7 linked regions of the Homo sapiens genome follow. The protein of the gene in region 6 purifies or fractionates together with the protein of the main gene of each other region. This does not show direct contact. Each region holds a gene or a part of one and is shown on either strand. Other genes may lie near its edges.

Region 1 (4,463 bases), on a different chromosome or scaffold from region 6:
GATAGAGGGATCGCTCTAGTCTTAATGGACCATGGTTTTCTGTAGATGAAGTTACACAGATTAAAAAGCATTTGTGATCATAAAGTCCAAAATGTTCCAACTGATAAATAACTGACCCCTTGGTTTCTGCAAAGTCTCTGAGGAAAATCCATGAAAAAGGGCTTTTAAACGTAAGATTTATTTCATTTACTTTATTTTTGAGACAGAGTCTCTCTCTGTCACCAGGCTGGAGTGCAATGGCGCCATCTCGGCTCACTGCAACCTCCACCTCCCGGGTTCAAGCGATTCCCCTGCCTCAGCCTCCTGAGTAGCTGGAATTACAGGCGCACACCACCACACTAGGCTAGTTTTTATAATTTTAGTAGAGACAAGGTTTCACCATGTTGGCCAGGCTGGTCTCGAACTCCTGACCTCAAGTGACCTACCCGCCTCAACCTCCCAAAGTGTTGGGATTACAGGCGTGAGCCACTGCACCCGGCCAGTTTATGCTTTTAAATATTTATTCATTTTGATCAGGAACAGGAAGTTTCTGTAATCTAGAGGAAGAGAAAATCTGTTCACATCGGGATTAAAAAAAAAAAAAAAAAACAAAAACAGGCCAGGCACAGTGGCTCATGCCTGTAATCCCAGCACTTTGGGAGGCTGAGGTAGGCGGATCACCTGAGGTCAGGAGTTCGAGACCGGCCTGGCCAATACGGTGAAACCCCGTCTCTACTAAAAATACAAAAAAAATTGCCCGGGCTTGGTGGTGAGCACCTGTAATCCCAGCTACTCAGGAGGCTGAGACAGGAGAATCGCTTGAACTCGCGAGGCAGAGGTTGCAGTGAGCCGAGGTGGCACCACTGCACTCCAGCCTGGGGGACAGAGTGAGACTCTGTCTCAAAAAACAAACAAACAAAAAACAAACTACAATCTTCCTTTTGGATTTTATTCCTAGAGTGAGATGCTACAGCAGTCAGGAAGTTGGGTCTCTAATGCAAGTGAAGTAGAAAGGAAAAAATCTGTCAACAATATATTTCCCCAGCTGAACAGCAGTAAGTTATCCAGAAGTAAATTAACTCCCCAGTTAAGGTATAATTCAGTTCTCTAGAAAGATAGTTTCTCTCTTGGAGAGATTTTATAAAGTCTTATGGTGACTAGATAAATAAAAGTTAATTATTAAAGAAGAAAATATATCAAGATGTTAATAATGTTAATGTCTGATGGGGAGATTATAGATGATTCTAACTTTTTCTATATACTTTTCATATATTCCACAATTTTCATAATCAGCATATATTTATAAGTAAAAAATAAACATTATATTGGGGAAAAATAGCTTGGGTTTAAATAGCTGTTTCCTTCCAAAGAATTATCAGAATTATGGCAGGGCATGGTGGCTCATGCCTGTAATCACAGCACTTTGGGAGGCCAAGGAGGGTGGATCACTTGAAGTCGGCAATTCGAGACTAGCCTGGCCAACATGGCGAAACTCTGTCTCTACTAAAAATACAAAAATTAACTGGACATGGTGGTGCACACCTGTAATCTCAACTGCTCGGGAGGCTGAGGCACGAGAATCACCTGAATCCGGGAAGTGGAGGTTGCAGTGAGCTAAGATATTACCACTGCATTCCAACCTGGGTGACAGAGCAAGACTGTCTCAAAAAAAAAAAAAAAAAACCCAAAAAACAAAAAGTTTTATCAGAATTACAGCTGTTATCCCTCCCCACTCCCCACCCCCAGGTCATCAAAAATATTGCTTTAAGAAGGTTTCAAACTAAATCATACATTCTAGTCATTCCAAGAAAATGACTCTCTGGAGGGTCCTATGACACCACTGTAACGTACCTGCCCTCCAGCTGCACACGCAGCCACTAAGCCATACTGGCCTCCTTCTTTCCGTAATCTGTTGGCAGCAGCCATGACCAACCTGCAGCCAGTGGCTCCAAATGGGTGTCCCAGGGACAGAGATCCACCCCAGTTATTAAACTTCTCCAAAGGAGGCAATCCAACCTGGCTCCCCCAAAGACACAAATGTAAAGATAAGTTTACTTAAGATCAGAATCAAGCTAGGCTCTTAGTACTACGAAGTAAGAGAGATAGAGGAAAATACGTAACGTCAGACATATTACAAATAATTTTACTGCAAAAGAAAGTAAGTCTAGGTCAATATTAAAAGTCAGGAGTCCATTTATTTTTCATCTAATGTCAGAATGCAAGGAACAAAAAACACAGAATTTTATTTTTGCTAAATAATTTCTATTTTTAAACTAAGAAATAAATATATTTAATGAAATACAAGAATTTCTACTTTTACACTAAGAAATAAATATCTTTAATGAAAGACAAAATTCTTCAAAAGAAAGAGAAGCTTTCCCTTCATATTCTTAAGAACAGGTAACTAAGATCCAATTATTAACGTGCTTTGAAAATTCACGCATTTTTTAAAATTAGAAACTCACCTTGGTTTTTCTACCCATGTAGTTTTCTGCAAACCAATCAGAATCCATGGCTTTAAAATTTGCCAAAATCTGACCCTGGAAGAGAAAATAATCGAATAAGAACCTCGTTATTCATGTTCCTCTACGCTTTCTTATAGGAATGGTTTGTGAAAGTTTAACAACTTTAGGTATGGTTTAAAGTTGAACAAATCGGCCAGGCACAGTGGCTCACATCTGTAATCCCAGCACTTTGGGAGGCCAAGGCGGGTGGATCATCTGAGGTCAGGAGTTCAAGACCAGCCTGACCAATATGGTGAAACCCTGTCTCTATTAAAAATATAAAAAAAATTAGTCGGGCATGGTGGCAGGCGCCTGCTTGTCCCAGCTACTCGGGAGGCTGAGACAAGAAAATTGCTTGAACCTGGAAGGCGGAGGTTGCAGTGAGCCGAGATCGTGCCACTACACTCCAGCTGGGGCAACAGAGCAAGACTCTGTCTCCAAAAAAAAAAAAAAAAGTAAAGTTGAACAAATCTTTGTATCAGTTTTCAATGGCAATTTCCTAAAGAAGCAATTTGGTATGTTCTCCAACACTGTATGTGTGGCCCTTGCTTCCCTCCCCTCGGGCCCCTCCCAGCAGTGTGAATCAGTACTTAAAATATGCAGGTCCACTCCTGCTCTACTCACATCATAAACCATGCCTTGCTCTCTCCCACAAATATGGATGACATTTTTTATGACTATAGTCCCTTCATATGTGTCTTTCAAATTACTTACCGAGAAAGCTTCATGAAATTCAAAAGCATCAATATCATTCATGGTCAATCCTGCCTTTTCTAGAACTTTTGGAGTAGCATATGTTGGTCTGCAAAGAAAAAATAAGTAATATCTTAAAACTTTAATTTTTAAACTAAGAGCTCCTTCATATTCCCCAAACTGAGTTTTACATAGGTACTCTAATGTCTTTTCACTCATTCTTTGATTTTTCTGTACTGATTAATGAAATGTTAAAGATAAAATAGTGAAACTGTACAGACATGCCCTCTACTCTTATGTTGCAGAGTCAGAGAAATTGATAATAAATAAACAGTGAGGGATAAGGACAAGCTAATAACATGAAGAACTGGAAGAACAGAGTTCAAAGAGCAAGGCAAGGGAAAGGGCTTGACTGATGTGAACGTCACAGTGGAGGCTAGAGGCTACAGCCTTGTGAGGGAACGGAACAGAGTCTAAACATGGGGAGGCTTTTATAAAAGGCTATATTAGGAAGATTGTGTAGCAGGGTGTGTAGCCATATGAAAAAATGCATATGCTATCTTAATGAAAAAGAATATAAGTTGTGTGTGTCCATATATATATGTAAAACTTATAGGAAAAAAATGGAAAATAATCCAAAACTGTAACATGATATACCAATGGAAAGGATTACTACTATTTTATTTATTTATTTATTTTTTTGAGATGGAGTCTCGCTCTGTCGCCCAGGCTGGAGTGCAGTGGCGTGATCTTGGCTCACTGCAAGCTCTGCCTCTCGGGTTCATGCCATTCTCTTGCCAAAACCTCCCGAGTAGCTGGGACTACAGGCGCCCGCCACCACGCCTGGCTAATTTTTTGTATTTTTAGTAGAGATAGGGCTTCACCGTGTTAGCCAGGATGGTCTCAATCTCCTGACCTCGTGGTCTGCCCACCTCGGCCTCCCAAAGTGCTGGGATTACAGGCGTGAGCCACCGTGCCCGGCCAGATTACTATTATTTTTTTTAAAAAAACCACCACATAAACCAATTATGAACTCAGGGCTTAATATACTCTCAAACCAGTGTAATAAACAAATAAATAATAAACCAGTGTTAATCATTTATTAACCAGTATAATAAAACATAGGCAATCAAATACTTGTGATTATAGTCCAAGGATACAAACTGCTACCTACCCAAGTAATAGTTGATCTTTTGGATCCTGAGACACATACATAAAATCCCTAGGTAAAAAAATAGAGAGGTGAGCTTTGGTAATAAAATAAAGAAATCAGAGATGATTTGTTTG
Region 2 (4,463 bases), on a different chromosome or scaffold from region 6:
TATCATCCCCGCTAATGGTGGGCTCCGGGAGGCTGCCGTCCTCCAGCACATTGGAGAGACTGGAGCTGTGGCGGCCAGGAGCAGCAGGAAAGGGCCGCGGCCCATCCAGTGGCGAAGGAGTGCCGGGCTGGCTGGCTGGAGTAAGAGTCCCACTGCTGCCGCCACCACCAGCAGTGTTGCCTGATCCTACACTAGACCGTTCCAGGCCCAGGTCAAAGGGCGTGCAGAATGGGGAGAGAGCATGGTAAAAGCCATCAGGGTCAGGGCAGGGGGCCTCTGAGGGCAGGAAGACATCTGAAGGCTCAGCAGGTGACTCAGTGGGTGGCTTGGGTGGGGCTGGCTTGGGGGAGGTAGGTGACTCTGGGGAAGACGGAGGGGGGCTGCCGGCTGTGGCAGCCTCCAGGACATATAGCCGGGTCAGCACATCTTGCCAGCCAGCCTGTCGGGCCAGAAGCCGCACTACATCTGGCTGTCCGTAGATGAGGTGGAAAAGCTGCAGGCGAGAGCACAGCAAGTGAGGACGCATCCAACTGCCTGCTCCAGACCCTCATCCAGGGCCTTTGCAGAGGAGGGCTCCAGAGACCCCTCATGAGACAGGCAAGGTGGAAGGCCAGAGGGTAGAAGCCACCCTCCCCCTCCCCCAAAGCTTTTACCTCTCATGCTCACCTGGCGACAGATGTCTAGGCGAACGCTGAGGTCAGCCTGGAGGGACAGCTGTACCACAGCCAGCAGATCTGAGAGGTTCAGGCAATCTGGGGGGATGGGTTGGGGGGACCTGAGGGACTGACCAGACTAGAAAGGGCAGGGCCCAGCCCTGGCCCCTATGCCACTATCTTCCTTCTTCCGGCCTGCCTGCCCTGTTTTTCTGACATGTCACCCCCTCCACTTGGCCTTAACCAGGTTGTACCTGCCCCCAGGAACAGCTTGTAGAGGCCCTGGCAGAGCTGGGGGGAAACAGTCCCCTCAGGCAAGCAGGCAACCAGACCCTGGAGACCACACTCCCGCAGCCGGAGGCGCTGGCGGCTCCGCTCAGGTAGCCGCTCATTCTGCTGCAGTCTGCGCAGGATCTGTGTGGGGGTCATCGGAGGACTGTCATCATGTGGAAGGAGTTACTGTAGGAGGGGAAGTCACCGTGCAGGTGTGTGGCTCAAGAGGCCCTTGAAGGCAGCTTCATCCGCTGGCCCAAGGCCTGCTGTACCTCCCTGAACCCCAGGCAGGGGCCCCAGTGAATGGGATGCCAGGGGAGGGGGTGGGCTGGGTGTACCTTGCAGACTCGATCGGGCAGCAGGGGCAGTGACCCTGGCCGCACTAGCAGGGCCAGTAGCACTTCGAGGTTCCCTGGCTCCAACAGAAAGACAGCCAAGGACTCCTGCACCAGGGAACCGTGCAGCAGGGCCAGCAGCAGGTCCAGCGCACCCACCGCCTGGGGATGCAGGGTCTCACACTGTGTCGGGCCCCCACTCCCCTCACCCAAGCCTCCCGCTCCCCAACCTCCAGCCTACCTGACCGTCATCGCCTGTGGCCGCCAAAAAGCTCAGCATGGTCTGCGTGACCTGCACGTCATCTGCTGAGAGACTCCGCACCAGGAACTCCCTCGCCAGGCCCAGGAGGGAGGTCTGCACGGTGCGTAGGTCGTCAGCAGCCAGGGGGCGCTCCCGCTGCGGGCTGGCAGGTCAGTAGGCACACCCAGCCAGGTCCCAAAGAAAGGCGGGGAGAGAGGGTGGGCAGGTGAGTCAGGGAAGCGCACCGCCCAGTCCCCAAGGCCGGAGGCCACTGTGTCAGCCCCCCATGGCCCATCTGGCCCCACTGGCCTCACCTGTAGTGGGTGCGCAGAGCATCCAAGATAAACTGGACGCCGTACTTCTTCCGCAGCTTCTGTCTGTGCTCCCGAACTATGCTGGACATGTACTGGATGTGACCTGAGCGGGAATGAGCAGAGGGCTCAGGCCACTAGGCTGAGCTGGGCCCTTCAGATCCTCCAGGCCAGGGCCATGTGCCTGTCAGACTTCCAGGGCAGGGTCATAGTCCCCTCAGCCGCCCCATGGCATTCTGGATTCCTAACAGGTGAGTCCCTCAGATCCCCCAGAGCAGAGTTCTAACTTCTCAGTGCTCAGCTGCCCTATGGCCGGCCCCTTGCTCAGGTCCTCACACCTACCGAGGCGCACGGCGAAGTCACTGAGGGTCCAGAGGTGAAAGTTGAAGAGCAAATGCTGGTAGAGTAGGTACAGGAGGGGCCCGCTGCCCTCAGCTGCCACCTGCTCCATCAGCAGCTGGGCGGACATGAGCACGTTCATGTCCATGGCCCAGCTTGGGACCTGGGATAAGACAGGAGCTGGAGTGAGGGCTCAGGCTCTGCCTGTCTGCTGTCTGAGCTTTTCAGCTGCCACTCTTCCCTGCACAGCCATGACGGCCACAAACATGGCCACCAGCCTGCTCAGAACCCTTTGGGGGCTTCCTGCCGCCTCTGACACGCAAGCCTCCTGCCTGCTGTGCGGGTCCCTGCCCCGACCTGTGCTGGGCCTTTCCCCAGATCCTCCAGACCCAACCCTGCTCGGCCTTTCAGGCCCCACTCAAGTGGCAACTCTCCCAGGAGGTTCTTCATGACTGACAGGGTTCCCCACTCAGTCCCCTCGGTCAGACAGGCTGACCATACCCCTAACCCCCATGCCTGTCCCACCGGGCCCCACCTTTCGCAGGAGGGCCCCGATGATGGCAGGCCCCTGGCACTGCACCAGGCTCTCTTGGTTCACCATGTGACCCTGAAGGAAGTTCCGCAGCATCAGCAGAAAAGCAGCCACTGCGTTCCTCTCCATCCGTTCCTCTGCCAGCCATCAGGAAGGGGACAGATGTGTGTCAAGGGCCTGCCAGTGGCCAGGAGACCTTGGGCATTCCACCCCCCTACCATGCCAAGATTCCCTCTCCACAACATAGGCACCAGGAACACTTACCTGAAGATTTACCCAATGGGAGAACCAGGCCCTGGGTGTTGTGACCAGAGGTCAGTTCAGGACCCACGAGGTCATGCGTTTCAGCTGGACCTGCTTCAGCCTCTTTGGGCTGTGCAGCTACTCGCTCCAGCAGGGGCAGCAGGGCACCCATACCCCCAACGCAGTTCACCACATCCTGGGGGAAGGAGGATGGCAGTGAGGGGGACCTTCCAGCCAGTTTCCTGCCCTACTCCACCCCAGCAGACCACCCAGAAAGGAAGTTTTGCTCTCTTGAGCTGGACTGTCCAAATCCTCCCCAGGCACAGCGCTGCTCCCCAGCTGACTCCGAACACACATGTGCCCCATATTCATGCCTCCTGCACACACCACCCACACGTGCTCACAGACCTTCACATCCCAGGTCTCCACTCTGTGGCCCGTCAGGCGCCCATCAAGCCCATGACTGGGGGACAGGTCCAGGCAGATGTTGTTCTTACAAGCCTAGGGATAGGGGAATGGGCAGGCAGCCAGGGTCAGAGGGAGGAGGGGGTGGCAGGCAGAGTGTGGGAGCCGGGGAAGTAGCACAGTCGAGCCAACCACTCCCCTGGGGCCCCCAAATACCTGAGGTGAGTAATGGAGGAGCAGCCTGGTGCTGAGCTCATGCAGCTCCCCCTCAGGCTTGAAGGGTGCCGTCTCATTGGGCCCTGGGAGGTGGGCAGGGGGCTTCAGACCTTGCTAGGCCTCTGGCCAAACCCCATCCAGAGACTGCCTGACCACAGGAGAGACCCCCAGAGATGCCTTCTCCCCCCGGACCCCTAGCTTCTGGCCTGGGGCTGTGGCAGAGATGGAGAATGCTGCATACCCAGGGTGCACAGGGTCCTCAGAGCCGTCGCCTGCAGGGCTTCGTGAAAGATGGCCACAGCCCCCAGCTCACCCTCCAGGGATGTGGGGCTGCCCCACCGAGTGTCCTGGGTGCCTGCGAGGGTAGAGTCGATGCTGCCCTCCTGCAGGGGGGCCACCAGCCCGGACCCCCAGCCAAGCCCTGTGGAGGCTGGGACTGACTGGGAGCGGGTGAGGGCGGGGTGAGTGTAGGCCAGGGTGGCGGGGACTGGTGGTGTGGGCAGCCCTGTGGTGGTGGTCGTTGTGCGGTATCCAGCGGAGCCGATACAGCAGGAGGAGAAAGGCTGTGGGGCCGGGGTTGGGGGAGCGGTCAGGTCACAGCAGAACCTGGGGCTCCGCCTACAACCAGTTCCTCACAGTGACCCCCATGGCTGCATGGACCCCAGTGGCTAAAGTCAGGCCTGTGGGGCAGCACGGGACACAAGGGCTCCAGGCTACACCTGCCCACTGTGTTCCAAGTCCTCCCATCTACCCAAGGCCTCCCCAAACCTTGCTTGGCACACCTCACTGAGGGAGGGGCAGCGAAGGGGTGCTGTCTTGACCAGATGGCCGTCTTTGTAGACATGGACCAGGTTCTGGCTGAAGGGCCGGCGCCCAGGCACATGGACGATAGCCACGCAGTGCTAGAACAGAAGC
Region 3 (3,960 bases), on a different chromosome or scaffold from region 6:
GTCCCACTATTCCCCACCTCCCAGTCCTCTGAAAAGGCCTCTGCCATTTTAATTGTAACATGTGATTGGGGAGTAAAATTCTTTACGTGTGGAAATTCTGTCTTTTCAGTGCCAAATTTCTTGTGAACCTGTGAATTCTGGACTTTGAATGGGTTTTTTTTTTTCTTTTTCTTCCTTTTTTTTTTTTTTTTGGCTTTCAGTCTTTTAATAGTTGCCATTTTCAAGCCTCTTGGTTTGGCCATGGGTGATAATATATGTGTTTACTGTTGAATTTCTTAATTCAACAGTGCATTTTTTAAATTTAAGAGGACAAAAACATTGGTGCCAGTTTTTTCCTCCTCTTTCTGCCCCAAAAGAAAAAAGTCAAACGTCTTTGTGAGAGTGAGAGTTCATTGGGAATTTGTGGGTAATTATTTATTGCTTTGTTTAAAATATAGTACTCGAGTTTTGGCCAGGTGTGTGATGTGGACTTTTTTGCACTCCTGTCTCCAGACAGGACTGTTAAGAGCCTTGGATGCAGCAGTGAAAACTGTGCTCACATTGCACTTTTTTTTTTTTTTTTAAAGGTTTTTGGTCCAAGCTCAACCTAATGAATCTTGGCTTTGGTTACCAACAAAGGAGTTCTGCTTTCCTCTCTCTGCTCAGACTGTTCCAAATGTACCAGCATAGGGGGCTTGCCCTGTCCTGTGCTGGATCAGATTTGTTCTATGGGTTTAGAAAGCTCATCTTTCTCTCTTTGTGACTTTGCAGCAGAAATTGGGTAGTTGGGCCCCTGAGATAAGTTTGGAGTAGACTTCTGGACAAGGGAATGGGTTTCTAAGAGCAAAGCAGTTAAGTGGAAAAGAAATCTGATGTTACCCACGAAAACCAGGTTTGTTTGCCTTTTTTTAATGGCAACCCAGAAAAGTGGCATGTTGTTCAGCTAAAATAAAGGCCCTATATTTTTAATGGAGACCTCCTTTTTTCTGGGGTTTGCGGTAGCTACAGCTTTGAATATAGAAATATTCCTTTTAGTTCTTACAGTATACTGAATATGCTGCTAAAGAAATTTTGTTGGTGCTGCCCTGACTGTTTTTTAACTCCCCTGAGCAATGTCTCACACAAAATTGGCAATGAGACAGCCATTGATTTCATTAATAAGTAATGAAATAATGAGCTAATTGATGCTGAAGTATAATGTAGACATGCTGCCATTTGAGTACAGAATATAGCTTATGAAGGAGCAAAGTCTTATACCACCAACTAGTAGAAAGTAATTTCCTTTCTGTATCTGTAGATGGCTCTTCAGACTTTTCTAATTTAAGATATTGAATAAATAACAGCTCGTAATTTTGTCCCATTAATTCAGTTACATAATGCTTTTGAAGATGCATGTGAGATGGAGGTGGTGTTCTGGGGTCTAATTGCTGAACGAATAGGTATGCCATGGGAATTCTCTAATTATCTTAGAGCAACATTTCTCAAACTTTGCCGGCTATGTGCATTACTTGAAGATCTTGCTAAAATTGAAATTCTGCATCAGTAGGCCAGGAGTGGGAACTGAGAGTGCATTCCTAATAAGCTCATGGGAGATTCTGTTGCCTCTGGTGTGCGGAGCACAATTTGAGTAGTAAGGCCTTTCAGAATACTTAATATATATCTAAAATTTATCAGTATTTTTTAGCCTCTAAGTGAACATCAAAGTGAATTCTGGGCTCTTACAAAATTAAAGACAAACTCTGGGAACTCTCTGGGAAGGGATTGTTGATTATGCAGCCTTAATGGGATTAGCTGGATAAGAGGGACGGAATGCTCCAGTGGCAATTGCACTTCAACATTTAAAACAGGGAAGGAGAGAACATTAATTCCCAGAGTGTGGTCCCCAGACCAGCAGCATCAGCATTATCTGGGAGCATGTTAGAGAAGCAAATTCTCAGGTCCCACCCCAGATCTGCTGAGTCTGAAACTTGAGAAACAGAATCTGGCAATCTATGTTTTAACAAGCCCTCCAGGTGGTTCTGATGCACAGTAAAGTTTGAGATGATATCTTAAGTAGCAGAGTAGGTATTGGGACACACATACATTTGATTCCAAAGCTTATGCCTCTAGAACAATTTGATATATTTTATTAGAAAGAATTATCAATAAAAGCTCAAGACTGTCATTGTTCTTTAATGGAAAAAAAAACCTTTTACTTTAATCATTTGAGCATTTATTATGCATATTAGGTTACGCTTTTCAGCTAAGAACAAGCTCTTTTCCTTCAATGTTTCTCTATCGCTTGCTGCAACCAGGAAGGCTGAGAAAGAATTTAGATAGCATTGGTTATACAGCTGCCACAGCTCTCTAAAATTACAGAAAGGTGGCATGCTGTTTCTTGTGGTTGGTATATGTGTTGCAGTAGTGTAGATCCTCCTCGGTTATGTGACGTCATGGCTGGAAGCCACTATCTGTGCCTGTGTCCTTTGGGGCTTGCTCATAATGACTGCTTACTGTTACAGTTCTTTTCCAAGTTTCCCTTGGGAAGGGTTCAGTGAGTTTTAATAGCAGGGGAAAAGCAATTTATGCCTTCGGCTGATAGGGAGTAAGAAAACTGGTAACTTTGTTTCTCAATTTATCACTGTCATTCCTTTAACACGTGTGTCATCCGATAGCATTTGCTTGAGATAGTTAACCTTCATGATACAGACTACTACTAAATTTTGGGTTAATTTGCAGCCATTAAGAACTAAGAACCGAACAGTTGAGTAACTAATCTTCAATTCTCTGTACCTAGGATGTGCAGAGAGTGGGTGGCATCAGGTTAGAGCTAGACAGGAGGGTCCATGGTGACCTTGGTTAAACAGAATGGAGGCAGGCAAATAGGCCAGCAGTTTAAGACCAGTAACGGGAATAGGCAGGCATTGTAGGTCAGAGAGGTGATACTTAAGAAGCCAGTCAAAGCATGGAGTTAGAAGTAAGTGTTTAAGATATAGACAATTCGGATATAGAGTTCAGGAAGTTAGCCAGCATAGGCCAGGACCCAAATAAAGGATTTAGGCAATTCACTGATAAAGGGCCATTTAAAGGCATGGGATATAGCTGTGAGGGAGAAAAGTGAACGTTAATTCTAAGCATCAAATAGAGACTGTGTGAGCTCAGGATCCCACATAGTTCCTACCTTAGGCTAGATCTGATCTCCCAGTGGGAGAAAGATTGAGTCCTAAGTAAGCATATTTGCCTTGATCAGAGTCTGAAATGATTGGGGTTAGCAAGACATCCCATTTTCTTCATAGAGTAAATGATTCAGCCCACCCATGTTCCATTTTTTTCTCATCCTACCAGTGACTGAAAAAGTCTACGAGAGTGAATCCTGCACAGATAGTGAAGAGGAGCTTAACATGAAGACATCCTCAGTACACAGACCCCCTGCCATGACTGTGAAAAAAGAACCCAGAGAGGAACGAAAGGGCCCCAAGAAAGGGACTGCTGCTCTGGGCAAAGCCAACAGACAGGTGTCCATTACTGGCTTCTTCCAGAGGAAATAAACTGCCATCTCTGGTAGATCAGAGACTTGGAGTGGTCAAGGGAGAAGACCAAGAAATGTACTCCTCACTTACTATGTAAGTTCATCTAGATCTCCACCTCACCTGTATCAAAAGACTGTTCTTTCATCCTGTGAGGTTTATACTATTTCTGGTTTTTAACCAAAAGGAAATCATCTGGAAGCAGGAGGCAAAAAGCTGTTACCTTCTAATGACATTTAAAAAGCACAGTCTTTGACCTGTCCAGGAGAAGGATTTACTCCAAAATTATACTGGAACAGTTTTCAGAATTCTCACTGAAGCCATTTAGTGGCTAACCCACTGTGCTCCACTCACCCTATGCCCTGGTCCGCATATGGCACAGGAATTATTCCTTCTTGTTCCTCTGTATTCTAAGAATTCATGTGGGTGTTTCTTATCCTTACATTCTGCTGGATACGTTTACCCCTCTTGTCTT
Region 4 (4,463 bases), on a different chromosome or scaffold from region 6:
AAAAAAATTCTACCACACAAAAGAATCTAGACCTACCTTATCCAACACAATAGCCAATAATCACATGGGGCAATTACGTCCTTGAAATGTGGCTAAGCCAAATTGAGGTGTGCTGTAAGTATACACCACCACCAAATTCTGAAGATTTAGTTTTTTGTAAAAAGCACATTAATACTTTTTATATTTTAGATATATTGGGTTAAATACAAATGTATTAAAATTAGCTTAATGTTTCTTTTTACTTAAGAGTATGACTACTAGAAAACTGAAAATTATCTTTGTGTCTCACATTATCAATCCATTTATTGAACAGCAATGATATAAACAGCGGAATTAAGATATTGACTGTGAACATCTTTTTATGTTGCAAATGTTGCATTAGAAGAAATATATCACCTATTAAAATACTGGAATAATTAACTATCAAAGGTATATTATTAAATCCAAGTGCAAAACTCCATATACTATCTTTTATTATATTAAAGACAGGTACACTACTCTATCAAACACTGAACCTGTACTGAGCAAAAAACTAACCTGCTCATTCTGAATGACTTGGCAAATACAGGGTTTACAAAATACATGTGCACAATGTGTTATCACAGGAACTGTTAAAGAATCCAGGCAAATTGCACATTCCTCATCTGAACCTGAGCTCAGAATTAACTTCATCTTCCTTATTAACTTCTTTCTCAGTTCTTCAGGTGTATCATTTCCTAGAGAAAAGGCTGAAAAATTAATTTCAGAGCAAGGTTTGTAATATGACAAGTTAATCTATCTTATAAGGAAAAGTTTCGCTTGCCAGTAGGGAAAGTCTCTCATCATTTTCTGCCATAGGCAAAAAGCATAATTTAAATTTGAAATTTAAGAAACATTCAGAAGCCAAAATAGTAGCCAACTCACATAATATACCTCATAGAGAAGCATCATTATAACATGACAATAACATACCACCACACAATAAAAGGCAGATCCAATATGAATCTTTCATCAAAGGGTATCTATCACCGGAATTCCTGGAAAGACCTCATTATAATTCCATTTCATTGGTAAAAAAATTATTGGATGTATTCCTAGCTGAGTCTCACACTAAAAGCAATCTCCATTTGACAGAACAAAATAAACTAAATGTATGCCACATAAAAAAAATTTATCACTCTTATTTAAGTATCTCTGACAAATACAATGATATGAAGCAATCAAATTTACCTACCTGAGGGGCCATTGGAAGACACTGCATTTGTAAGAAGGTAAGTATGGCAACAAATTTGCCGCAGTCTAAGCAAAAGACCCAGGACATCTGCATAATGTGCCAGGACAGTCCCTTCATTAAAATACCTAGAGATTAAAATGTCAAATATTATTAAGTCCGCTAAACAATAATAACTTCCTATTCTAAAACAGCAGAGTAAAATGGCATTTTTCTTTTCTTCTCTAGAAATTACTCCAAAACAAGAATGAAAAGCAGAAAAGCAACTCTAATAAAACCAAGAGAGATCTATAACAATAAGGCACAATATATGAGAAATGGCTGCCAATTGCAGTCTAAGTCAGATAGGAAGATGCTGAGAGGGATGACTGCAGATCTCAAACAGAGCTGCCAAAACACAATTCTTTAAAATGGATGGCATGCCCTGAGGGGAAAATCAATACCTCTCATGTGCAGAAACAGGAACAGGGTGCATGCTTGGTGACTTGAGCTTCCATGGAGAAATTTATATCAAAAAAAGAGGGAAGGTAAACTGAATACAGAAACATACAGGTGCACTGTATTTTCAAAAAAAGACTATGGGCACAGCACTCTACACTCCAAGCACCCCTAAAGTTTCTGATCTCTGTTTATGTGTACTAATAAAACCTAAAGTAACTCAACATGTAACCCTGAGTCTTAAGTAAATTGGGTTATTTCCTGCTGGTCGGGGACATGATTGTGACCTTTCCCTTTTGTATATCTGGACTAGCAAATAGCTAGTCCAAGAAGAACTCAAGATATTCAAATATAAGTAATAATCAGCAGAGAGCAAAGGTAGGGGACACATGGCAGTGAAAGAAAACTCAGCAGAAAAATGTTGCCACAGAGCAAATAAAAATTATGACCAAGGATACTGTCACAATTTAACACCACTCAATAAAACAATTCCTCCAAAAAAAAAAAATCTTAAAGCAAAGACAAAGAGCTTTGAAAAAATATGGCAAGAGAACAGGAAGAGATGAAAGATGAGCTGGTATGGCTCAAGAAAGTGAAAGAAAACAGTGAATCATCAGAGAAATGAAAGTCACACTGAAACCAATATAAGCCAATATAAAAAAAGACTAGTCACTGATAAAAACATAGAAAAGGATGTAGGAAACAGGACTGAGAAAATCAAAATTAAACAAAAAAATGTAAAAGATCAGAAATAAAATGATACCTATGGAACACAGATAAAAGACATCTAACATACACAGAGAGAAATAAAATAATGGAACAGAAAACAATATTTAAAGAAAGCTTTCCAGGAAAGAGAAGGGGGGAAAAGCCTGGAATCTAAAGATTTAAATAATATCACATGTCCCAGGGGAAAGTCAACAAAGAAGTTGCTGAACTTCAGAGGGAAAAAAAAAAAAAAAAAAAAAACCAGGCTTCCCCACAGAAACATTCTATACAAAATACAGTGGTACAATGACAACATAGATTCTTAAGGAAATGGGTGATCCAAAAATTATATAACCAGGCCATCTGATATTTAAGTATTTTAAGGCAACAGAAGAAATATAGCCTAACGGCTAAGAGTACAAATTTTTAGAGCTAGCTGGTCATGAATTCAAAACCTGGCTGTGCCAATTTAATTATGTAACCTTGGACAGGTTGCTTAACCTATGTCTTGAGCTTCCTCAGTTCTAACAGTGGCATTGTAAAAGTACCTACCTCATACAACTACTGTTATTTAATTTAATACATGTAAAGTATTTAAAATAGTGCCTGGACTATATTAAGTGCTATACATGAATCTGTTGCTAGTATTAGTACTGGTAGTATTATGGCAACAAACATTTCTGAATATTCAAGAATGCAAGGAATAGGCAAAATAATACAAAGATTAAACTTACAAGCTCTAAACCAAAGTGCCAGAGTTAATCTGTCCTGTCACTCACTAGCTGTGTGACAACAGTGTAAGTCACCTAAACTGCTCTGTGCCTCAGTTTCCTCACTTATAAGATGTGGATAATTATACTGACCTAATAGGATTGCTGTGAATACATTTAAAGCACTAAGATCAATGTATAACACCTAGTGAGTGCTAAATAAATGTTAGTAAATATATAGCCTATTAAAAAGAATACTTTAAAAATAACTTATTTTCTGAGAACAGTTTCAATAAAGTTAATCTTTTTCAACTTTTTCAAATAGAATAACCTTTACTAACACTAATTATTCCCTGGCATGGTCATATCTTACTGATACTCAGCATTTCAATTTAAGAGATCTCTTTTGAGTGCCTACCATGTGCTAAATATTAGAAGCTTCCTTCCTCCTATTTCACCAGCCATTGCTATCTTCACAGTTAGATCTCTTTCACTTTACTCACTCCCTTGGTGATCTCATGGCTTTAATTACCATCCACACATAGCTGACTTTGAACTCGACTCTCCTATCCAACTAATTATTTGATATCTCTACTTGGAAAATTCACGGGCATCCTATGATCAATGTGTCCAAAACTGAGCTTCTGATCTTAGCTTAAAAAAATCTCTGCTCTTCCCATAGACCTGTCTTGGTAAACAGCAATTCCAGCCTTCCACTTATGCAGGTAAAAAGGCTTGAAGTTATCTTTGATTCCTCTTTCACATGCCATAACATATCAACCAGCAAGTTCTGTTGGTTCTACGTTCACAATTTAACAGAATCTAATCATTTCTCACTCCCTTTATCACTACTATGGTAAAAACCACCATCATCTCTTGCTTTGACTGCCACTGGTCTCCCTACTTCTGACCTTATTCCTATTCAAATAACCTAAATCTGAGCACAGCAGCCAGAGTGATCTTTTAAAAATATAAATCAGATTACGTCCCTCTCCTGGCTCAAAACCCTTTAAGGTTTCCTGTCATAAAAAGTAAAAGCCAAAGTCCTTGACATATGCGTTACATACCCCCATTCCAATAAATCTCTGATATCATGACTATTTTCTCTCGTTCATACTATCCAGCCACACTTGCTTCTCTGTTATTCTTCAAGCTCACCAGGCATGTTCCCAACTGGGAGCATCTACACTTGCTCTTCCTTCTGGCTGAAACACCCCTTAATCCCAATCTCCTTTAGATCTTTACCTATATATCATCTTCTCAGTGAGGTCTTCCTTAATACCCTACTAAAACAGCTTTGGCATTCCCCATCCCCTTTCGTTGCTTTATTCCTTAAAACTTAATCATGTTTTTAAATTATCTGTTTCTTCCCATTAAAATATAAATTCCTCGAGTGC
Region 5 (4,463 bases), on a different chromosome or scaffold from region 6:
TAGGCACCCCCCAGGCACAATGAACCCACCTCTGCTGCCTTTCTTGGGAGGGGCTGAGGCAGAGCCATCAACTCTAGGTTGCATTCAGTAAGATGCCAACAAATGTATTAAAAACTGTTTGTCTGAGGAGGATTTTAGCAGAAAGAAAGCTACACTGACCAAGAACATCCTCCTACCTGTCTTCTTTTTACTGACAGCTCTTCTCAAGGATACCTCATTTTCAGGTATCTCCTCAGCAGAGAGGTCACCATCACCCACTTTTGTCTTCTGTTCCTCCATCGTCTCTTCAGGCACAAAAGGAGACTGATCTACGATAGCTTCGAAGACACCCCGAGCTATGGTCTGTACCAGGGTGTGGCTGAGGGTAGAAGCACAGCGGAGAGCATGTGATGAGAACAAACGGCCTGGCCTTCTGGCTTCAGGGGCACAGAGGGAAGCCCTGCACACGTTGCTGTGGTCTGGAGTGGCCCCCACGGGCCAGCAAGCATCTGAGAGGAACTGCCTAAGTGCCACCCGACAGGCACGGGACGCCCAGCGGTCAGATCTTTGGGTGTGGGAGGGCATTCCTGGAATGAGTGAGGCAAATACTGAAGCTAGAAGAGCCAAATCACTGCTCAAAGCTTCGGCTGTCTTCTCCAGCCGCTCTCTGCTGTGAAGCAGTGTCCTGGGTACCCTGTGCCAGGCTGCACGACGGCAAGTAACTCCCATGAGCAAATGCCACGGAGCAGGAGGAACGAACAGGGGAATCACTTACTCCTTCGTCTTCGCAGCAATTTTGCAGAATGGATCGATAAACTTGAGATTCTGATCTGCTAAAAGCTGTAATTTAGAAAAAGGGAAAAATTGAGAAAGAGCCTTTCCCTTCTTGACATGTCCTTGAAAAAGGGACCATTCCCATCTTTTACAAAGGTGGAGTTAGACCAAGCAATGCCTGTCTCACACAGCCCCAAAGCGCCCCTGTGGAATGCCACAGAAGCCTGGAGCCAGGCTGAAGACTGAGGCCGCCCTCCAGCTACTTGGTATCTTAGTGCAGTGGCTGGAGAAAGCCACCCAGCCTGACCTGCACTATCCTATATGCCCAACATATACAACACGGGTGTCCAATCTTGTGACTTCCCCAAGCCATAATGGAAGAATAACTGTCTTGGGGCACACCTAAAATACACAAACACTAACAACAGCTGATGAGCTAAAAATAAAATAAAATAAAATAAAATAAAATAAAATAAAATAAAATAAAATAAAATGCAAAATACCCCTCATATTTTAAGAAAGTTTATAAATTTGTGTTGGGCCACATTCAAAGCTGCCCTGGGCCCCATGCAGCTCTCAGGCTGCGGGCTGGACAAACCTGATACAGGACATACATATACTTCCTCTACAAGAGGGGTAACAGGGACAGTGCCTCCAAGTGTGAGACAAAAGAATTATTGTTTTGAATATAACATATTTTCTTTTAATCAAAAAAATACATGTTCCCTGCAAAACACCTGTGAAAGAAAAGTAAAATCTGTGCACATTCCCACATTCAGAGAATCATTTGCATACTAAAAAATGTATGTTTCCTTTCCAGCCTTTTGTCTATTTATGAGTATATACCTTAAAAATGTCTACCATTTGCATAGCTTTTCCTAGCGCTTTATAAAGCTCCCTAGATCCTGAGTACTCCCCCGTGTTAGTGAGTTCTTTAGTGGAGTCTGTAGGTTGCTTTCAATTCCGTTTTACAGGTAAGACTGTCATGTACATCCTCAGTGCACAAATCCCATCCCACCAGCTGCTTAGGACACATTCCCAGACAGGACTGAAGCAATTCACGCTGCTACAGTCGCTGGTCATGCGAAGGGCCACCCCACAGCACTTCACTGGCGACTACTGCGAACACTGGCGGCCCCCTCACCCCGTGGGCAGCCTGTCGGCAGCTGCTTACCTCCTTCCCCCCGACTTTGGAGAGTTCATCCAGGTAAATATCAATGAAGTGGAATCTCACTCCATTAGGAGACTGACTCTCAGGACACAGGACCTCCTTCATCAGGACATCCAAGAAAACCTTGATTCGGCTAAAGAACCAAACGCATGCTTCTGTGAATGACAGTATGCCAACACGTCCCACTTCCCAAAGAGAAACAAAAATACTCCGTCTAGAACCTACACAGCCTAACAATCAATGCAAGGCTGAAATCATTTTACAAGGAAAAAAGCAATCACTTAAATCAGGATAAAATGTTAACTGTCATATATACTTAACTGTTTTATGCCTTCTACTGGATTTCAATTCTCTATAGGTAACGATGTATCGAGCTTCTCATTGGTACTCTACAAGTTCAGAAAACTTGACACTCTACTACCTTTTAAGTTTTAAGGCTACCACATGCTAACTCAAATGGTTTACTGACCTTTCTTCCCAGCCATTTCGCTTCAAGACTTCAAAGGACTGCCTCAGGACCAGACGAATCAGCTAAAGAAAGGCAATTTTTGTTTAAAAAAAAAAAAAAAAAAAAAAAAAAGGAAAGGTAAGAAATATTAATCAGCTCAGCAGAATGAAGGGACCAATGAAATTGTTATGGCCTGGATCCCAAAAGTAAAAAAATATTCACAACAGTCATATTTACCTTCTAGATCAAAAAACATATTCATAGCCAAGAACAGTGGCTCATGCCTGTAACCCCAGCATTTTGGGAGGCTGAGGTGGGCAGATCATTTGAGGCCAGGAGTTCAAGACCACCCTGGCCAACATGGCAAACCCTTATCTCTACTAAAAATACAAAAATTAGCCAAGCATGGTGGTGCGCGTCTGTAATCCCAGCTACTCAGGAGGCCGAGGCATGAGAATCACTTGAACCCAGGAGGCGGAGGTCGCAGTGAGCTGAGATCGCACCACTGCACTCCAACCTGGGGAGCAGAGCAAGAGAGACTCTGTCTCAAAAAATACCCAACGTATTCACTAATGCTCCCCAAACTCATCCTTAAGAACTGCAAAAGCCAAAACAGAGAAGCTTTCCAGGACACATTCAAATTCTTCCTTCACACTAAGCCTGTGGCTTGTTTTGCTTCACAAATAAACCTTCCCATTGTTTTTAAGATAAAGGACATTCTTTTCTTCCCAGGAGTTTTTGAAGTAACTGCGGCAGATCTTACCATATAGTATTTGTCCAGGCGTAGCCTGTCTATTCCTTTCCATTCTCGATTCATGGTTTGCCAAAAGGTCTGAATGAACAGGTGTTCTGCAGTGAACAAAAGGCTCTAAATACTTGGCTTCCACATCAACATACTACCATATAGCAAGAAAATAATGAAGAGGAACAAACTAGCATTATTTATTATTCACTTTTCTCAGTAATTCTTGGGCAGCTAGAAAATCTGTTGATAATTAAATATACTCAATCATTTCTTTTACACTTATTTATTAAACATCACTTAGACTGTGCAGATCTTTTACTTTTTTTTTTTTTTTTTTTTGGAGACGGGGTCCCACTCTGTGGCCCAGGCTGGAGTGCAATGGCATGATCTCAGCTCATTGCAACCTCTGCCTCCTGGGTTCAAGTGATTCTCCTGCCTCAGCCTCCCGAGTAGCTGGGATTACAGGTGTGCACCACCACACCCGGCTAATATTTGTATTTTTAGTAAAGACGGGGTTTAACCATGTTGGCCAGGCTGGTCTCAAACTCCTGACCTCAGGTGTTCCACCCACCTCGGCCTCCCAAAGTGCTGGGATTACAGGCGTGAGCCACCGTGCCTGGCCTTGGTCTTTTGAATTTAAATAAAAACAGAATAACCGGAAGGGCTGGCAACATTGCAATGTCAGATTTGAGCGCTCTCTGGAGCATTTTTCCTTTATCCACTGCAAAGCCACGTTTCTTTTAAAATCAAGACTCCTTGTTCCACTTCTAGTAACTCTTCCTACTGCACTGGTACCTCACAATCAGTTCAAAACCATTAATTCTGACACTTATATAATCCATATAGAAACTCATATTTTTGTCTGATTATAGGTGGCATCTGGGTGAGCTACGGTACAAAACACTGAATTTTTCTCTTCTGACCCACAGAACTAGCACTTTTTTATTCAAAAACAATTTTTGTTGATTTTTTGGCTTTATTTCTTTTTGCACAATTCTTTTTTCATCTTTGTAAATCTATTATACATCATATGTAGAATTTTGTTCAATATGAGTCAGCTAATATTCAGAGCACCACTGGGGGTGGTTGAAATCATTAGGATGCTTTTCTGAAGAGCATTAAGCAGAACAAACGAAGTCGGCTACCTTTTTCTTCCTTTATAAGCAATCAACGCCTGACACAGAAGCACCCTAACTAATTTTTTTTCTCTATGGTTGAGAGGAGTTACTTCATAGTCTGTGACCGGTGGTGTCTTCTATGTATTTATTACCAGTGACGGCTCTGCTCTTGGGGAAGACGAACCTGGCATCCAGAGGTCACCGTGGACCCTGCATCTGGCTCTCCAG
Region 6 (4,463 bases):
TTCACAGATGTTGCCAGCACCCAGAAAGGTGCCTGTAACACAGTAGGCACTCAATAAATACTTGTTGACTGGCTGCGCTATTGAGTGAATTCCAGTTGTTCCACGAAAGTAGATATGAGGCCCCTACATCAAGTTGTATCTGCCTCTGATTTGGACATTGAATTGGGTTGAAGAGCTTTCAGCCCAACTCAGGAGCCCAGGGTGAATGAGGCAGCTCCCAAAGACTGATGGTGCCCTTCTTCCTTCCTGATCCTCAGTTCAGAAGTTTATCAATGAAGACCGACTGCCACACTTGCTTCTCTACGGTCCCCCAGGGACAGGCAAGACATCTACCATCCTAGCCTGTGCGAAACAGCTATATAAAGACAAAGAATTTGGCTCCATGGTCTTGGAGGTAAATAAGATTGTTCTTACTCTACAAATAACTTAAGAGACTCCAGTCTCTTAATTTCAGTTCTGCTGGTTTTATTTTACTTTAAAAGTAAGTTGCCCCACGGACAGTTAGGAAAGAAGTAAATTTGAATATTTTAATTCCCTTTTTCCTATAATGGTCATTTTGGTCTGGATTAGCGTTGGTCAGCTAGAGGGCAGTTGTAGGGTTTGGCACCTTTTTCTTTGCTCTTGCCAACTTCTCCCCAAACCTTACTTTATGGTGACTTGGTTGCTGCCTGTCTGCCATGGCCCCTCTAGATCAATTCTCCACGTTTCTCCACCATATTCCTGCCTGGAAGGCTGAGCCCTACTGACTATAAGCTCACTTACCCTCTGGCTCCTGGTTGGGTTTGGCCAATAGGGGCCTTGGCAGGGGTGGGGGAAGGAAGTGAGTGATGCCTGGGCCTTCCCTGGGGGCTGACACAGGCTGGCAGCATGGCCCACCTGTAGGGTACATCTCACAGGTGGTACCTTTCCTGCAGCCCTCTCCAGGTGCCTACAGCCACTCCCTTCACTAAGCCCTTCAGGCTCAAGGGTGACAGGTATTGCATAGCCCCATGGTTTTCCTATATCACACCTTTAAAAAGATCTTGTTTAATTCTCTTCAAATTGCTGCATTTGAGTATGCCATCTGTATATTGCTGGGACCTTGACTAATATACTTAGATTCAAAAATCTGAGTATTGTCTATTGCAAGAAAAGTTTAACTTACTTTTTAGACGCAGGTCTCAGAACTTTGCTGCTACTAATGTCCTTATTTCAGTTTATTAAGAACTTGGTAACTTAGGATTGTGGTAGCTGAAATTTGTATCATTCTGCTCATACCAGAGGTGCTGTTCAGTGTAACCATACCAATTAATTATTTCTCCAATTTATGTCAGTCATTGTCCTCAAAGGGTGGGGGTAATATAGCCATCTTTATTAATTTAGTGAATTTTGTGTAAAACTGATTTTTTATTTTATGATGATCTCTTAGCCATCATTAGACATAGAGAGCTAGCCTGCTGAGCTGGACTGATGAGGAAATACACTAACACCAAGAACTCACAGATAGCACAGCAACATGGTTTTTGTTTTGTCTTCTGTCTTCCACATTTAGCTGAATGCTTCAGATGACCGAGGAATAGACATCATTCGAGGACCGATCCTGAGCTTTGCTAGCACAAGGACAATATTTAAGTAAGAATTATTTGTGTAATTTCGCTCCCTTGATTTTGATTAGTAAGATGATATGGGTTAATTTTTTAATCCTCTCCTTAGCCAGTTTATATGGGTTGAAAAAAAAAGTGACTTTGTCCAAAGCAACCATGGAAAAGAGATAAACGAGAGGGATGGTAGTAAGAAGCGTTATAATGCAACTGTTAAAATAAAATGTTATCTACGCTTGTATTAGCAAGTTTGTTTTTTTTTTCTTTTTTTTTTGGAGACAGGGTCGCCCTGTATCGTACAGGCTGGAGTGCAGTAGCATGATCTCGGCTCACTGCAACCTCCACCTCCTGGGTTCAAGCGATCTTCCAGCCTCAGCCTCCTAAGTAGCTGGGACTACAGTCGTGAGCCATCACGCCCAACTAATTTTTGTATTTTTTAGTAGACATGGGGTTTTGCCATGTTGCCTAGGCTGGTCTCGAACTCCTGAGCTCAAGCAATCTGCCCGCCGCAGCCTCCCAAACTGCTGGGATTACATACGTGAGCCCAGCCTGCATTACCAAGTTCTTTAGGGAGCATTAACTTCATTTTTAGTTCCTGAGAACTGGCTAGATTACCCTAAGACTGGATGAGCTAGTTTGAATTTAAAAATAAATTGAGATCAGGAAGGACAACTAGGATGGTGGCTAAAAAAAAAAAAAGAAAGAAAGAAAAAGGGTGAGGGCCGGGCGCAGTGGCTCACACCTGTAATCCTAGGACTTTGGGAGGCCTAGGCAGGTGGATCACCTGAGATCAAGGGTTCAAGACCAGCATGGCCAACATAGTGAAACCTCGTCTCTACTAAAAATACAAAAATTATCTGGGCATGGTGGTGGGCGCCTGTAATCCCAGCCACTCAGGAGGCTGAGGCAGGAGAATCGCTTGAACCCAGGAGGCAGAGGTTGCAGCGAGCCAAGATCGCGGCACTGCACTCCAGCCTGGGCAACAGAGCAAAAACTTAGTCTCAAAAAAAGCAAAAGGGTGAGGGACTCAGGCATGAGTGAGGGAGACGGGAAAAGCAGTAGCATGGTAGGGTGCCATGTGGAGGAAAGTGAAGATGCCAGAGGACACAGCGCACAGAAGTAGAGAAGTCTCCTCCATTCCCACCAAGGGTTGAAGGAGTGATGCGGCATTTCCTCTCTGAGTGACCAAAGATGTCTGCCTTGGCCAAAGTTCTAGAAGAAATTGTCTTTCTGAGACAGGGCCCGATGGCACAATGGGAAGATATAGGTTTGAGCCCAGATGTTGAGATGAGATTGAAGAAATCTTTAGACAGCACCATTTGTTTTTCTAGGAAAGGCTTTAAGCTAGTGATCTTGGATGAAGCAGACGCCATGACTCAGGACGCCCAGAATGCCTTGAGAAGAGGTAAGCAGAGGCACTGTGGAGCGTTTGGGCTGGTGTGCACACTGGAAGGAGAATTAGGAACTTTGTGTTTGTTGCTGTTGTCATTGTTTTTTTAGGCGGGGGGGAGTTTTTTTTTCTTTTTTTGAGTCAGAGTCTTGCTCTGTCACCCAGGTTGGAGTGCAGTGGCGCAATCTTGGCTCACTGCAGCCTCTGCCTCCTGGGTTCAAGCGATTCTCTGACCTCAGCCTCTTGAGTAGCTGGGATTACAGGCATGCACCACCACACCCGGCTGATTTTTATATTTTTAGTAGAGATGGGGTTTCACCATGTTGGCCAGGCTGGTCTCGACCTCCTGACCTTGGGTGATCCGCCCGCCTCGGCTTCCCAAAGTGCTGGGATTACAGGAGAATTAGGAACTTTAAGCTTCCCAAAGTGCTGGGATTACAGGAGAATTAGGATGTGAGATATGGCTTGGCTTGTTTTCAGTTTTCATCTTCTGGCCCAGAGAAATCTCTATGCCTTTCTCTGTGTCTCCCATCTAATGACACAGGCTAGATACCTCTGTAGCGGGACTTCCCCTTCAGCAGCCTAGGGACTAAGCCCTGCGGGGACTTTTAAGTCTGGCCAGTCACTGGTGTTCAACCTCCTTTGACACTGGGTTCAATTTCAGAGTTGGGAATTCATATCTTTCCGTGGGATGGGGTGTGGAAAATCTTTCATCCTTAAGCTATCAGATAGTCCTTCTGCTAATAGTACCCTCTCCTTTCTACTAATGGTACCCTTTGAACCACAATGGCTAGGAAAAGCATATCTGAAGTTGAGGTGCTCAGAGAGCTGATATTACTTCACTGCTTGCCAAGTGAATGATTTGGCAGCGGGAGGGACAGCACCCTGCGATTTGTCTGTCTTCAGGGGCCTAGCGCAGTTCTTTTCTCTTAAAGGACACTTGTCATCTCTCATTAAGATTCCAAGTGAATCAGCTTTGAGAGAAGAACGATCTTTAGGAGTTTGTGGCGAGGGAGTAGATGGCAGCACATGTTAAGAGAAGGATGGGGGAAGGGGGAGGAGGAGGAGGGGGGAGGAGGGGAGGAAGAGGAGGGGGTGAGGAGGAGGAGGGGGAGGAGAAGGCGGAGGAGGAGGGTAGGGGGAGGTGGAGGAGGAGAGGTGGGGGAGGAGGAGGAGGAGGAGGACAGCGAGAATATCTTCTGGTCCTAGAAGCTTGGCAGCCTTTCTTCGGCATCTTGTTCTGCCGAGTGACTGTCATTCTGGGCAGATCCCCATGTGAGAACATTGGGTACCTACAGAATGGAACCGGTGTCATAAGCAACTCTTTGTTCGGGTTATTGCTCCCTTGAGTGCTCTAAGGCCTCCAGACAGTCTCCATGGAAAAGTCTGCAAAAAGCCGCCCTCCCTGCCCATAGAAGGTGAAGTGTCATCAACCTGCCAAATATAATTTTATGTAAAAGGACAAGAAGTCTCATAGTCTTAATGGGATTACA
Region 7 (4,463 bases), on a different chromosome or scaffold from region 6:
TTATACAACCAGTCACTGACACATGAAGGACTTCAGTCTTCATGTGTCTGTAAATCACTCTTTTATTCTACATGGCCTAATTCACACTAATGACAAAGACTAGTTAAATTAGATTTCTATTGGTATCTACTTTTGTTTTTGGAAATAAGAGGGTGAATGGCCAAAATTTAAGGACCTTGAAATCATAACTAACTCAAAAATGTCCATATTGGTCAGGAGTAGTGGCTCACAACCTTTTTTTTTTTTTTTTTTTTTTTGAGACAGAGTCTCACTCTTTCTCCCAGGCTGGAGTGCCTTGGCATGATCTCAGCTCACTGCAACCTCTGTCTCCCAGGTTCAAGTGATTCTTCTGCCTCAGCTCCCATGCAGCTGGGACTACAGGTGCGTGCCACCACGCCCGGCTAATTTTTGTATTTTTAGTAGAGACTGGGTTTCACCACATTGGCCAGGCTGGTCTAGAACTCCTGACCTCAGGTAATCCACTCACCTCGGCCACCCAAAGTTCTGGGATTACAGGTGTGAGCCACCACGCCCGGCTGACTCACAATTTTCATCCCCGTGCTTTTGGAGGCTGAGACAAGAGGATTACTTGAGGCCAGGAGTTCGAGACTAGTTTGGGCAACATAGCAAGACCCTGTCCCTACAAAAAATTTTTTTAAAACTTAGGCGCGGTGTTGTGTGCCTGTAGTTGTAGCTACTCAGGAGACTGAAGCAGGAGAATCACTTGAGCCCAGGAGTTTGAAGCTGCAGTGAGGTGGGATCATGCCACTGTACACTAGCCTGGGCAACAGAGCAAGATCCTGTCTCTTAAAAATGTCCATATGAATGATCACTATATTCTTGTTACTTTAATCAAATTCTATATTTGTTACTTTGAATTTTGAATTCCAAATGAGGCAGATTAATTTATATAGGTACTATAAATTACATGGCAATAGTTTCCTAAGTCATTTGCCTTGGTTCATGAAACTGGTTAGGTATTGCTATTTCATTATGGTGATTTAGCAGAACATTGTGAAAGCAAAAATTGTTTTGAACAGGAACTCACATTTGTTCAGAAATAGAAGAGAGTGAGTGGTTAGGCACTGGAGGTGGTGTTAAAAAAAAATAGAAGAGTTAAAGTTTTGAAATAAAAAGAAGCCTGCCAGATTTGTTTATAGATAAAGATTCTTTTCATAAAAGCAGATGCAGTTGATTCCCTGGTTAGGGGAATATTTTTATTAAAATAGTAACCAGTACCATTACTGAATGCCTCCCGAATACCATGTACTGTACTTAAATCATCTCCAATCCTTTTGACAACCTCGTTCTCACTTTATAGATAAGAAAAATGAGGTTCACAGAGGATAAAAAACTTTTCCAGGTCACACTAGGTAAAGGAGATATTGGAGTCTGCAGTCTTGACTCATTATTTTCACACTTCCAACTCATGGCCTTGACCCTGACTTTTCACTCTGCTTTGGATGTTCTTCCCCCATATTTTGTCAAGTGTTGCTTTCTTGTCTCATTGAAATCTGGTCGAGGGAAATTAGAGGCTTATCTAAAATATCTCACATATCTCCTCCCTTTCATTCTCTTGCCCTGTATTTTATTTTCTTTATAGAACTTATTACTACCACAAATAATTACATTTTTATTTGTTTACTGTCTCTTCTCCCCTCAACCCCCATGATAATGCAGGCAACATGAGGGCAGATTTTTATCTGTTTTGTTTGTTGTTGAATCTAGTTCTTAAACAATGCTCAGAATATAGAAGGTACTCTTATTTGTTAGGGGGAAAAGATCGAACATGAATCATTATTCCATGAACATATTTTTAGAGTCCTTACCATTTGTTCAGCACTGTGCTAGATTACTGAGTTCTGTTTAAAGCCTTTTACTTTGAGTAGTCTTCAGTTAGCTCAGTCTAGTTTTTTCAGACTCCTTTGGTTTCTTGGTAGCCATACTCTTGCCTGCTTTATTGCTTTCATTTGTACAATTTTGTTTCATTTTCTTGCAAGACACACTGAAATCTCAACGTTTCTATGGAAGGTGTGGTACCCTCCCACATCACAAATTATTTTTACCCTCTATTCTGCTTAGTGAGGCCTAGCCTAAGCACCCTATCTATCTAAAGTAGTCTATGCCTGTTTGTCCCACTCTATCCCCTTGACCTTCTTACTTAGCACTATTGCTACCTGAAAGTGTAATATATATGGTTCATTGATTATTGACAGTCCCTCCCATTAGAATGTAAGATCTGTAAGGTTAGAAATTTTACATTATCTGTGTATCTCTAGTGCTTAGAACAATATATTCATGGAATAAAATAATGATCGAATGAGAAATACCCATGTTATATGAGATATCTGAATACCTAAATTTATAATATCTATACTTGAATCCTGATTATGTCCCTTCCTTAAGTAAGTGCTTTACTCTGACCCCCTTGCTTCCTCATTTCCAAAATGAGAATAATATTAATAAAATCTACCTTGTATAGTTGTAAAGATTAAGGATGTGTAACTCAGCACAATAATCTGGCTTAAGCATTCAGTAATTAGTTTCTACTAAGTTCTTTATTACTCGAATTTTATGTTGTACCATCTAGCAAGGTACATTAAGTATATTCAATAAATACGTGTTTTATTATATAAACCTCTTATTTCTTTCATAATCTTTGGGAGTTTCTTGATTTCCCCTTTGGAATCCCTTATAACGTCTGTTTCTGTTTTCCACTGAGAGTAAGCACTTAATATTTGTTGTCATCATAATTAAAAACAAATATAAAATGTTTAAGCATTTGTAAGATAGCTGATAATTGAAAGACACTGTTAAGCAAAATAAGAGTAGATGAATCTAAGTAATATATTACAAATTGGAAACGTCTAATACTAAATCTTTTCTATATATTATCAAACTGCTCTTTGTATTTAAAGATTCAATTTGTGTCTGTACATAAATTTCTGAATTCAAGGTCCTGGGATAACTGGAATCTATGAATTTAACATTGGGGAAGAAATATTGCTTGTAAAAAATTATGCTAATAAGTTATTGTATCATTTAAGGATATTTTATTTCAGAAAAAAAGTACATGGGTATTATGTATTAGTATTGTATTTATTACACATTTATACATTGAAAGGGGTTAAAATTTAGAGATATTTCAAATATTGAAAGTTTTCCCCAGAAATCTTTTTTCACGTTTTTATTTATCCAAAATAATTGTACTTCTGTCTCTTAATTAGGGAGATATGCAAACCAAAATACTTAAATAAGACCTCAGTACGTCCTGGCCTGAAGAACTGTGGAGATGTTAATTGTATTGGACGGATTCATACATACCTCGAATTGATAGGAGCAATCAATTTTGGATGTGGTAAAAATAAAAACCCAACAACATCTTTTACTCGACATTTTTTATCCTTACAGCACTTATTCATTTCTATGATGGTTAGAATTCAAGTAGTTATAGGTATATAGAATTCAGAGGTGCTGTAACATTATTTAATAAATGTTTTATTAAGATTTTACTGTTGGTTAAACTGTGTTTTCATTTGACCTACACTGAAAATTGAGAGTGTAACTTTAAAGGTAAAATATTCAATCTAAGTAATAGAAATAATTTAAGAATACAGTTCTTTAGCAGATAAAAGTAAAATTATTTTATGAAAAGTCTAATAATAGCCCATTTAATTTGCAAATACTGTATTCATGCTAGAAATACTACCTAGCAATGTTTAAATAAAGGAAATAATTTGTGAGCCTCTACACTTACATGTGATAAAAGCGTCAAAATATTTTTTGTGGAAGACAATTGTACCTTAGTTTTTTTCAAATTTAAAGTTAATGAATATACATATTTTAAAATATATTCTACTCTTTTTTTTTTTTTTTTTCTCGCTCTGTTGCCCAGGCTGAAGTGCAGTGGTGTGATCTCTGCTCACTGCAACTTCCGCCTCCCGGGTTCAAGCGATTCTTTTGCTTCGGTCTCCAGAGTAGCTGGGACTACAGGCGCATGCCACCACACCTGGCTAATTTTTGTATGATTAGTAGAGACGGGTTTCACCATATTGGCCAGGCTGGTCTCGAACTCCTGACCTCGTGATTTGCCCGCCTCAGCCTCCTAAAGTGCTGGGATCACAGGCGTGAGCCACCGCGCCTGACCTCTACTCTTTTATTGAATTAAAATGACACAACCATTCATAGCTACAAAGTGATAAGGTACATAAAACCTTGTAACCCATGGTTTAAGAAGAGTATATTCTGTGTTTGTCTATGAAAGGGAGACAACTAACAAGAAGATTTTCTGTCAGATATGATTTTCTTTTATATTGAGCTAGATAGAATTTAGTTTGCCCGGGAATCTGTCCTTCATTTCAGTGTCTTTGTTTTCCCAAAGCCTTGAATATTGAGACTAGCTTTTCAGGAAAACTAAAGGATTTTTGCTTCCTCAGCCACCAAAAGAAAAATTAAATCATGTT

What was found.
Region 1: the proteins of RFC5 (region 6) and HADHB fractionate together in Homo sapiens (co-fractionation; one large-scale study listed by BioGRID). This does not show direct contact.
Region 2: the proteins of RFC5 (region 6) and NBEAL2 purify together in Homo sapiens (tandem affinity purification; one large-scale study listed by IntAct). This does not show direct contact.
Region 3: the proteins of RFC5 (region 6) and POLD3 purify together in Homo sapiens (tandem affinity purification; one large-scale study listed by IntAct). This does not show direct contact.
Region 4: the proteins of RFC5 (region 6) and HLTF purify together in Homo sapiens (affinity purification with mass spectrometry, with the first as the bait; one large-scale study listed by BioGRID). This does not show direct contact.
Region 5: the proteins of RFC5 (region 6) and RRP1B purify together in Homo sapiens (co-immunoprecipitation; one large-scale study listed by IntAct). This does not show direct contact.
Region 7: the proteins of RFC5 (region 6) and MYSM1 purify together in Homo sapiens (affinity purification with western blotting; one study listed by BioGRID). This does not show direct contact.

Annotation. Positions count from the first base shown.
Region 1 is NC_000002.12:26,282,939-26,287,401, reverse strand, and holds part of HADHB (trifunctional enzyme subunit beta, mitochondrial isoform 1 precursor), read right to left. Parts: intron 4,399-4,463; coding exon 4,351-4,398; intron 3,286-4,350; coding exon 3,198-3,285; intron 2,520-3,197; coding exon 2,445-2,519; intron 1,996-2,444; coding exon 1,831-1,995; intron 1-1,830. UniProt on the Homo sapiens protein: Mitochondrial trifunctional enzyme catalyzes the last three of the four reactions of the mitochondrial beta-oxidation pathway.
Region 2 is NC_000003.12:46,995,919-47,000,381, reverse strand, and holds part of NBEAL2 (neurobeachin-like protein 2), read right to left. Parts: intron 4,451-4,463; coding exon 4,331-4,450; intron 4,112-4,330; coding exon 3,790-4,111; intron 3,632-3,789; coding exon 3,549-3,631; intron 3,429-3,548; coding exon 3,336-3,428; intron 3,124-3,335; coding exon 2,949-3,123; intron 2,822-2,948; coding exon 2,688-2,821; intron 2,316-2,687; coding exon 2,156-2,315; intron 1,920-2,155; coding exon 1,817-1,919; intron 1,666-1,816; coding exon 1,503-1,665; intron 1,424-1,502; coding exon 1,265-1,423; intron 1,113-1,264; exon of another isoform or gene 1,083-1,112; coding exon of another isoform or gene 1,068-1,082; coding exon 908-1,067; intron 753-907; coding exon 667-752; intron 494-666; coding exon 1-493. UniProt on the Homo sapiens protein: Probably involved in thrombopoiesis. Plays a role in the development or secretion of alpha-granules, that contain several growth factors important for platelet biogenesis.
Region 3 is NC_000011.10:74,637,261-74,641,220, forward strand, and holds part of POLD3 (DNA polymerase delta subunit 3), read left to right. Parts: intron 1-3,303; coding exon 3,304-3,506; 3' UTR 3,507-3,960. UniProt on the Homo sapiens protein: Accessory component of both the DNA polymerase delta complex and the DNA polymerase zeta complex.
Region 4 is NC_000003.12:149,040,953-149,045,415, forward strand, and holds part of HLTF (helicase-like transcription factor), read right to left. Parts: intron 1,339-4,463; coding exon 1,214-1,338; intron 729-1,213; coding exon of another isoform or gene 717-728; coding exon 538-716; intron 1-537. UniProt on the Homo sapiens protein: Has both helicase and E3 ubiquitin ligase activities. Possesses intrinsic ATP-dependent nucleosome-remodeling activity; This activity may be required for transcriptional activation or repression of specific target promoters.
Region 5 is NC_000021.9:43,672,628-43,677,090, reverse strand, and holds part of RRP1B (ribosomal RNA processing protein 1 homolog B), read right to left. Parts: intron 3,222-4,463; coding exon 3,136-3,221; intron 2,456-3,135; coding exon 2,394-2,455; intron 2,058-2,393; coding exon 1,928-2,057; intron 820-1,927; coding exon 755-819; intron 359-754; coding exon 177-358; intron 1-176. UniProt on the Homo sapiens protein: Positively regulates DNA damage-induced apoptosis by acting as a transcriptional coactivator of proapoptotic target genes of the transcriptional activator E2F1.
Region 6 is NC_000012.12:118,019,375-118,023,837, forward strand, and holds part of RFC5 (replication factor C subunit 5), read left to right. Parts: intron 1-257; coding exon 258-394; intron 395-1,531; coding exon 1,532-1,611; intron 1,612-2,911; coding exon 2,912-2,985; intron 2,986-4,463. UniProt on the Homo sapiens protein: Subunit of the replication factor C (RFC) complex which acts during elongation of primed DNA templates by DNA polymerases delta and epsilon, and is necessary for ATP-dependent loading of proliferating cell nuclear antigen (PCNA) onto primed DNA.
Region 7 is NC_000001.11:58,675,821-58,680,283, reverse strand, and holds part of MYSM1 (deubiquitinase MYSM1), read left to right. Parts: intron 1-3,227; coding exon 3,228-3,358; intron 3,359-4,463. UniProt on the Homo sapiens protein: Metalloprotease with deubiquitinase activity that plays important regulator roles in hematopoietic stem cell function, blood cell production and immune response.